2 separate regions of the Homo sapiens genome follow, and region 2 is linked to region 1. A link means that fine-mapping ties the variant in region 1 to the expression of a gene that starts in the linked region. Tissue or cell type: blood mononuclear cells. Region 1 holds a variant in brackets; the other region holds the start of a gene. All regions are shown on one strand. Distances are between the middles of the regions.

Region 1 (4,151 bases):
CCTAAGGGGGTCCCTGGGGTACAGGTATAGGGGTGATGAGAGTCCAGTCTCACTCACTATTAGAAAAGTGATTTAGATATGATTTCTCACCAACCAAACCAGCAAAAAATTTCCCCCAAATCCTGAAACTAGAACCCTTGGTGTGGACGAGAAAAATGGGCAATGGGCAATGGGCAATGGGCACTGCTTAATGGTGGGAGGGGGTGGCCTGTTTCCCTGGAGGGTGACTTGGCACCATGTCCACAGCTGCCACCCTCTGATTAAGGAATGATTACAGATGTGTACAAAGAGCTAATGTGGGAGGATGTCATCTCTGCCTTCTTTCTAGGAGCCCTGCATGGGACATCCTCGCCCTTGTCCGACAGAGGCGATCTGGTTCCCCAGGCAGTGGGAACACTCTGCAGCTGTTTAAATGACAGTGTCCCACACTGCAATCAAAGCCCCTTTGTGGGCCATGAACTGAGTTAGTGGACTGGGCTAGGATTTAAAAAGCAGGGAGAAAATATTAGAAAGCAGCCTTTCTAGTAAGGTTAAGTGCTGTCCTGTGACCTGTTGGTCTCAAGTTGTGTATGTGTGCAAGGACCGTGTGTTTAGAACATGTTTATACAGTGGGTCAGAGTCAGAAAAGTATGAAAACCAATGATGTAAATGAATACTGAAGGATATGGCATAGGGTTTATCCAGTTAACATTTACCAAGCAGTTTATGGAACCTAATGCATGTTATGATTCCATTTTATAAAAATAACTCACATACATGGAAAGATGCTATGGACAGTGACTGTCTCTAGATTCCAGGATTTTATTATTTATTTATTCGTTTATTTGAGACAGAGTCTCATTCTGTTGCTCAGGCCAGAGTGAAGTGGCATGATCTTGGCTCACTGCAACCTCCACCTCCCAGGTTAAAGCGATTCTCATGCCTCAGCCTCCCCAGTAGCTGGGATTACAGGTGTGTGCCACCATGCCTGGCTAACTTTTTGTATTTTTAGTAGATATGGGGTTTCGTCATGTTGCCTCAGCTGGCCCCGAACTCCTGAGCTCAGATGATCTGCTCGCCTTGGCCTCCCAAAGTGCTAGGATTACAGGCGTGAGCCACCGCGCCCGGCTCAGGATTTTAAAGTTATCCTTTTGCTGGTTTCATAAATTCTTTTTTCTACAATGCGCATATATTCCTTTCGGAATAATAAGCAATGAAAGGTAGCACATTGGGGTGGGGGTGGGGGGAGCACAGAAAAGAACAGGAGATTGCTTTTGCCTTGATGGAAGGGGACTCCTCACTCTCCTGGCTTCAGTGCACAAAGGCCACCAAGCTAACCAAGCTAACCAAGCAGGGCCTCACTGGGTGGAGCAAACCAGGAGAGCAGAGTGAGTGTCCCCAGGTGAGGGAACTGCACTTGGAGGGTCACACAGCTTTCAGGGGCTGGAAATTTGGGAGCTGGGGCCTCCTAGGTCTATGGCTGAGGAAACCTGTCCAGATGACACACACAGCTACCGACAAATGAAGGCTGTACGCTCACGCCATGTAATTGAAGAAGAGAGTTGACGAACAAGAGACTGGCAGGCTGGAGGACTCCAAGAGAATGATCTGGGCAACACAGGACTAAAGGAGCCTGGAAGATTTTTTTTTTTCCAAAATATTGCAATTTGCTCAGACAAATTGTGGCACAAATACCAATCAACATTGGATTAGTTATTTGTTGGGTCTAGGAACCAGTGCAGAGTTGCAATTATAACCCATACTTGTTTATTCTGTTAAATTAAAATATCATTTTCCCATGACCTTTATTTCATTTTTCAAGATGACGTGCCCTGCCCAGCATGCTGTTTGGAGGTGATGTCCTTTGAAGCTCTGGTGCCTATTTGAAGTGACTGATTCCTGGTACTCACCCTCCCTGCTAACCACGTGGAATTCCCCTTTCATGCTTGCCTTCCTCATGGGAAGAGGGCTCCACGTGGGCAGGGACCATGCTGTGTCCTGTTCGCTGGTAAAGCTACAGTGCCCGGCACAGAGCAGGGGTGGAGGGATGAAGGGAGGGAGGGATGGACGGAAAGTAGGTAGGCAGGTAGATGGACAGGGAAGGAGTCTGTATAAGAAAGTGTTTATTCATGGTGGGGCGGAGGGTCACACATACAGGCC[T/C]TGGATAGTGTGCAGGGACTGCTTCCAGCTGTCCTTCCAGCGCTGAGCCTCCTTTATCTGAGATGTACAGTCATCCTGGATCCTCTTTAGCTCCTCCTCAAATGATGCTAAATATTTCTAGAAGGAAGGTAGCAGGAGGGGTCCACATGAGGAGAGACATCTGGACCCTCTCCCCTAGGGCAATGCTGTAACTTGCTGGCAGGTGGTTTTTAACCCATTCCAGGCACTGGCAAGAGTTCTCCAAGTCACTTCTCAGGTAGAAACCAGGTAGTCCTAGTTGTTTTCCCCATTTTACAAGACAGGAAAACTGAGGCTCAGAGCCTGGCCTGGGGTCACCCAGCTAGAAGGAGGCTGAGCAGGGACTAGGACCTGTGTCTATCTGACTCTAGGCTCAGCACTCCTTCCTGAGCTCTGTCCCACACTGTGGCCTCTCGGGAGCTCAGGGCTCCCGATTTTTTGGTAGGCTGGGCCTTCCAGGCCTCCCACCCTCACTGAACTCAGCAGGCCGAACTGCACCCTCTGCCTGGGGCTTGGAGGGGAAGCTGGGGGAGGGCTGACCCTGGGCACTTCAGCCTCTCCCAGTAAGGGGGCCAGCTGGTCTCTGGGCAGGACAAGGTTTCTCTCTGGACATCAGGACCAAAGGTCCACAGATCTTCAAAGCCAAGAGGTCCCTCAAGTGGCAACTGGGTGTAGCCTCCTCATCAGGCTGTCCCCAGGGGGTCTGACAGGCACTGGGATCAAATCCTGGCTCTGCCACTCTGTAGTGGCATAGAAGGGACAAGTTTCTTTAAGCCTCAGTGTCCTCATCAATGAAATGATAATAATTTTACCTCCCTTGTGGAGTTGTTAGGAGGATTCAGTGAGATGCCTCATGTCAAGAGCAGAAGCTCTCAGTAAGTACTTCCCAGTAAGTTCTCAGGAGCTGTGACTGCTCCTGCTGCTGTGTCCCCCCTGAGCCTACGGCTACCATTGCTTCCGTGCCTGGTGACAATGTTCCCTAGCTGTGACACTACTGTGCCTTTGGAAAGCCTTCACCCCTAATCTGGGTGGGATGTCCCTCAGCTGGGCTCCCACAGCATTGGGATCACGCCTCAGACCCACATTAATGTCCTCGTGCCTGTGAATGGTGACTGTCCTGAGTGTTGAGACCTGCAGCTCTGGGGTGTGCTGACATGTGTTGCCTGCTGCACCAGCCAAATGTTGGGTGCCGGGTGATGGGAAGCTCCCCCTTCCCAAGGCAGCCGACCTGAGCTGTGCTCCCTGGGACACGCCCACTCCACCCTGTCTCACCAGGTACACAGCATCTCGGGCTTCCACGGCCGCCAGGTGGCCCAGGGTGGTTTTGGTGGTGGAAATCGATGATGTTGGCTGGAGAAGAATCTTGTTTTGGATGGTGACTTCGGTGGGTTTGATCCCTGGCCACTTCCTACAAACAAACATGTGTGAAAATCTCACAGGCTTGTCTTCATCTTTCATAATCCACCTACCAACCCTGTTGGAAAAGCTTAGCATTTCTTTGAAAAAATTATCATGGCTTTAAATATCTTAATGAAAAGAAAAAACATACTGAATGTGAATGCTGCACTTGTTCAAGCTGTTTCATATTAGCCCCCACTGGTCTCATTGCTGTGCACGGTCTGGGGTTCTGGGGGGGGAAGGGGAGTGCCACAGCTCAAGTTGCTCCCCTTTCTGAGCCTCAGTTTACTCACTGATCTGCCAGCCAGGCGGTGGCCACCAGTGCCTGGTATGCTTTTCCTATGATGCCCTGAACACCACTTCTGAGAACATAGCTGGGCAAATCACTGCTCTGCTTCTTCTTGCAGAGTCACACTCTTGGGGCACAGGGAACAGGCACATTGCCAACTCTCTTCACACATGACGGACAGCTGGAGTGGCTCACAATGCCAGCAGTGACCCAAGAATGTGTCCCCCACTGAGCCAGGCCTCCCTTTCATCATGGGACCCTTTGGTGGGTCCTTATCATGTGCACTAATAGCTGTTGAGCTGTTTGT
Region 2 (4,151 bases), 69 kb after region 1:
GCAAACCATCCTGCAAGGTAGGTATTAGCCTCCCTGCTTTAGGGGTGGTACTTGAGACTTCATTCCTACAGGCTACTCATCTTGTGCTGGCTCTTTTTGAGTTTTTGAAGGCTCAGGTACCCTAGTGCATGGGGGTGAGGCATGGACAACAGGACCTACCTGTGGAGAACAGGGTTTTCCATGATCCAGTCGTTGGGGAGGCTGTGCATCCACTTCTGCTGTCGGGGAGACATCACCTCCCCTTCAGGAGTCTCCACCTTCTTCATCATGGGTATCCTGCCACTCTTCAGGGTCACAGAACGCTCTGCAGCCCGCTTCCTGGTGGCCGCCAGGGAGTGGACCAGCTGCACCTGAATCCAGGGAGGACCAAGGATGGGGGAGTGGTCAGAGCTGCTGACTTCCTAGCACTCTCAGGCTGATGGTGGCTGTCTAGAAAGACATCCAGAGAGCTGCCCCCAGGAAGGTACTTTTCAGGAGGCCTTCAGCCCCAGGTCATATCCCTATAGGAGAGCTCTCCTCCCAGTAACAGTCACTCAGCCACTTCAAAGAAGGCCTCTTTCTAAGAACCTTAAATGAAGATCAAGATGAACATCTCAGCCTTTTTTATAATCACAAGAAATTGGAAAAACAGAACTGACTAATAATAGGGATTGGCTGAGTAAACATGGTATGTCTGTTTGATGGAATGTTAGGCATTTGTTAAAGATGAGACCCACAAATAATTTTTTATAACCTGAGGAAATGCTTAGGAGATGATATATGGTTAAATATATCACTTACATGCATTAGAAATTATAGAATTATAGAAATTAGAAATTAGAAATTATAACCAAAACTATACCGTATGATCTCAAAATTTAAAACGCATAGGAAAAGGCCCTGGGGGAAGTATGCCATGAGTTAAGAATGGCCTTAGAGAGAGCAGGATCATGTGAGTGATGTAATTGTTGTTTTGGCTTCTTTATACTTTTATAATTTCCAGAGGTTTTACAGATAATTATTTAAGGCTTAAATTAGGAATGCAAATCCCTTTTAAATAAGCAGTACAGAACTTCAAAGGAAGAATTTGGGTCTGTGTGTTTCTTTTAAGATCTTGTTTTGTCTATACAGTGCTTTAGAGAGAACAAGGCAATTTCAACAACCTACACTGTTGTCAAGAGGGCTTTACTTTAATACAGTTATGGGAGTCCTAGGTCAACAAGTGGGGAGCTGCTCAGTATGGTGAAATACATGGGCGCCCACGGGCATAGAAAAGGGTCTGTGAGATACTGTTATGAAGAAAAAGCAGATTTCAAAACACTAGTACAGAATGAAACCTATTTTTTAAATACAAAAATTAGTCATGTTTTTATGCATGGGAAAAACAGAGGTCACCCAGTGGTTCCATCCAGGCTATTTCTGAGTAATTTACATTTAAAATTTTAATTTAAGTTTTCTAATTTTCAAGAACTGACATTCTAATTTTGTATTGGTACGATTTAAGAACAAGCAAGAATTATTTTTAAAATCAAAGTAATTTCAAAGCCCTTGTTTTATTCAATTTCCAGTAGGGAAGCCCTGGGAGGGAGGGAAGTTTGGAAGAAAGCAAGGGAAGGGGGATGGAGAAAAGCGGGACAGAGGGCGGCTCCTACCTCAGCCTGGAAGATCTGCTGGTAGGCTTTCCCATTCGGAACCTGGGTCACCTTCCCCACTGACGACATCTTGGCCGCTGGCTGGATGCCCCTGCCGGGAAGCCGTCGTCCAGGAAACGCGTCTAGGCTTTGGTGTCTCAATTCCAATTCCTGAGGTTGGGAAATCGCCCGTCCCAAACTCAGGTTCAGGTCCAGGCGGGACGACGTCTGGCCTCGAGGCGGCACCCCAGGGCAGGACTCCCCGGGGAAGGACTCTCTGCTGGGGGGTAGGCGGCTGGGGAACGTCGACTTAGGGTTTTAACTTTCAACGAAACGATGAAACTAACCTCAGATGAGCTCTGAACTCGAGCAGGAGGCCGGTTCTCCCCGCCGCGCATGGCGCAAATCCGAAGGGACTCTGGGAACGCGAATAATACAGGATTATTGCTTGTGCTTCACTCTGCCATGCTCTTCGGGGAAAAGTTAACGGCGCTCAAGGTGTCGGTTGGGACTGGAACTCTAATGCGGCGCAGAATTCGCATCCGGGACCCTAATCCACCCTCCATGGGACACAGGGAGGAGAATTGGAGGGAGAGAGTAACCTGATTCAGGTCACGCTAATTAGGCGCCTACTGTGTGCTGAGAAGACCCAACCAGCCTCTGCCATCCCCCTCCCTAGCCCGCCAAGTAGACTGAGCAGCCCCTGGCCGTCCCCCTGAGCCCGGTAGATTGGAGGGAGGCCTTGCGTCCGGCCTGGCCGCGTCCCCGCCTGCAGAAAGCACCTCTCAAGGCAGCCAGGGCCGGTCCAGCGACAACTGCAGCTGGACGCCCATGGTCTCCAAGGCAACGCGGAGGGGAGGGACTGCCCCGGCCCCGCCCACGCTTTTCTTCCCAGGGAGGGGAGATTGCTCTTAGCAATGGGAGCGCCCCACGTGGCGTAGTGAAACTCAACTATTTCTTTCAATGCCAGTTCCTCCTCTCTACAAGGACTACAACCCCAGGGCTGCCAGGAGCAGCACTATTAAATGTTCTGAAAGGTGGTAGGATATATGAGATGTAGCACTGAGCCATCACGGTCAACAAAGTCCATCCTAACTTATTTGCCTTGGTTAAAACCAATCTCTGCTGGGGGACAGCATACGGTAGTGTTTGCCTGTAAGTTAGAAGCTGAAAGACTCTGGAAGAAACCATCTCTTTCTCATTTTAAAAGAGGTTGAGAGCTCAAAATTCAGGGATCAAGGCTTGCCTGGCCAGAGATGAAAATGCTTGTGGTTGGCACTGAACGTGGCCTCGGGTTTCCCATACATATGAGACACCCAGTGCCGCCTTACAGAATCCCTCCCTTTGGCAGTGATATGTTACAACTGCTAATAAATGCTCCCTATGCCAATTTTCTAGAATGAGTGATTGTTCTGTCCAGACTAGAATCAGAAATTAAGAAATGGTGAGTATAAAACCCTTTTATTCTCATTCTTCAGTCCTGGGTTTTATTAACAAGGTGAAGTACTGTAACAAAGATTAGATTCATTTTAGCTGGAAAAAGAAAACGTGTAGGTGACTGAGGGAAGGGATGAAAACACAATAACAAATAGGTAATGTCCAGGAATTACTTGCAGTCTCATATCTCTTTCCCATCCAAGGAGGCCCTACTGGCTTTGGCCTTGAACACTAGAAACTATTTTCCCTACCCAGATGCTTTCTGGGTTCTGGTTCCAGGCACATCTGTAATTTAGGGGTTTCTTTCTTTTTAAAAATTATATGGCTATAAATAGCAGGCATGGACATGTGAAGTATGGGATTTTGTTTTGATTAAACTCCATATTTATTGTCAAAAATTAAAAAAAAATGAAAAACTTCAATGGAGAAAGTAAAAATAACCCATAATCCCAGCACTGAGAATTTACCTCCCTTAACTTCCAAGTTTTTGAGACTGTGTTTGAGTTTGCATCAAACGTGGAAATTCGTGTTTGCCTTTTGGATGGCATTTCCATTCTCCTCCCAACCTGATAATATCATAGCGAAAGACTAACCAGTTAGAGATCATCTGGTTAGTCCACCTCCTGTGTTTAGATACGGGCAAAAAGCCAGAGATAGGGAACGGAAAGAATGACACCAGGGCCTCTGGATCTTTTTCTTGTAGCTCAGCATCATCTTTGATCTTTTCCCTCTCACTCTTAACTTTGAAAATGTCTCTTGACCCCATCCTTTTCCTTCCTCTATCCCAGGCTATTGTCTGTCTTCTGCATAGTCCAGACAAAGCAGAGCAATGAGGACCACCACAAGAGGCAAATATTTAATGAGAAGATTTAATGCCTGTAGTGACTATGAGAGGGGTGCCTTAAGTAACCCATTTTACTGATTAAGAAACTGAAATTCAGAGTCAGTGACTTGGCCAAGATCTCCAAGATAGGAAGATCTAGGATATGAATCTAGACCCTGTAATTCAAGTCTTGAACCATCTGACCTGTGACTAGCCAGAAAAAAAGTTATTTAACCAACTGATTGGATGTGCATGTTGAAGCATAGCGTACATATCTAAAA

Evidence for each region. PIP is the estimated chance that this variant, and not a neighbour inherited with it, causes the effect.
Region 2: it holds the start of CCDC180, and the variant in region 1 is the best candidate, but not a certain one, in a credible set for the expression of CCDC180 in blood mononuclear cells (TOPMed, PIP 0.83).

The regions. Positions count from the first base shown.
Region 1 is chr9:97,374,868-97,379,018 of GRCh38, reverse strand. CCDC180 (coiled-coil domain containing 180) reads right to left here. Exons shown (of 37, transcript NM_020893.6): 36 at 3,430-3,565; 37 at 268-2,256. The coding sequence ends at 2,125. It overlaps SUGT1P4-STRA6LP-CCDC180 (SUGT1P4-STRA6LP-CCDC180 readthrough), which reads right to left. Exons shown (of 45, transcript NR_036529.1): 44 at 3,430-3,565; 45 at 1,724-2,256. Among named protein-coding and RNA genes, the nearest start is that of MIR1302-8, 13 kb to the right of the region's middle. The variant T/C (reference allele first, on the strand shown) is at 2,140.
Region 2 is chr9:97,305,613-97,309,763 of GRCh38, reverse strand. It overlaps CCDC180 (coiled-coil domain containing 180), which reads right to left and starts at 2,105. Exons shown (of 37, transcript NM_020893.6): 1 at 1,958-2,105; 2 at 1,632-1,781; 3 at 160-350. The coding sequence starts at 1,700. It overlaps SUGT1P4-STRA6LP-CCDC180 (SUGT1P4-STRA6LP-CCDC180 readthrough), which reads right to left. Exons shown (of 45, transcript NR_036529.1): 13 at 1,958-2,028; 14 at 1,632-1,781; 15 at 160-350. RefSeq lists enhancers at 1,900-2,400, 2,343-2,637 and a silencer at 2,343-2,637.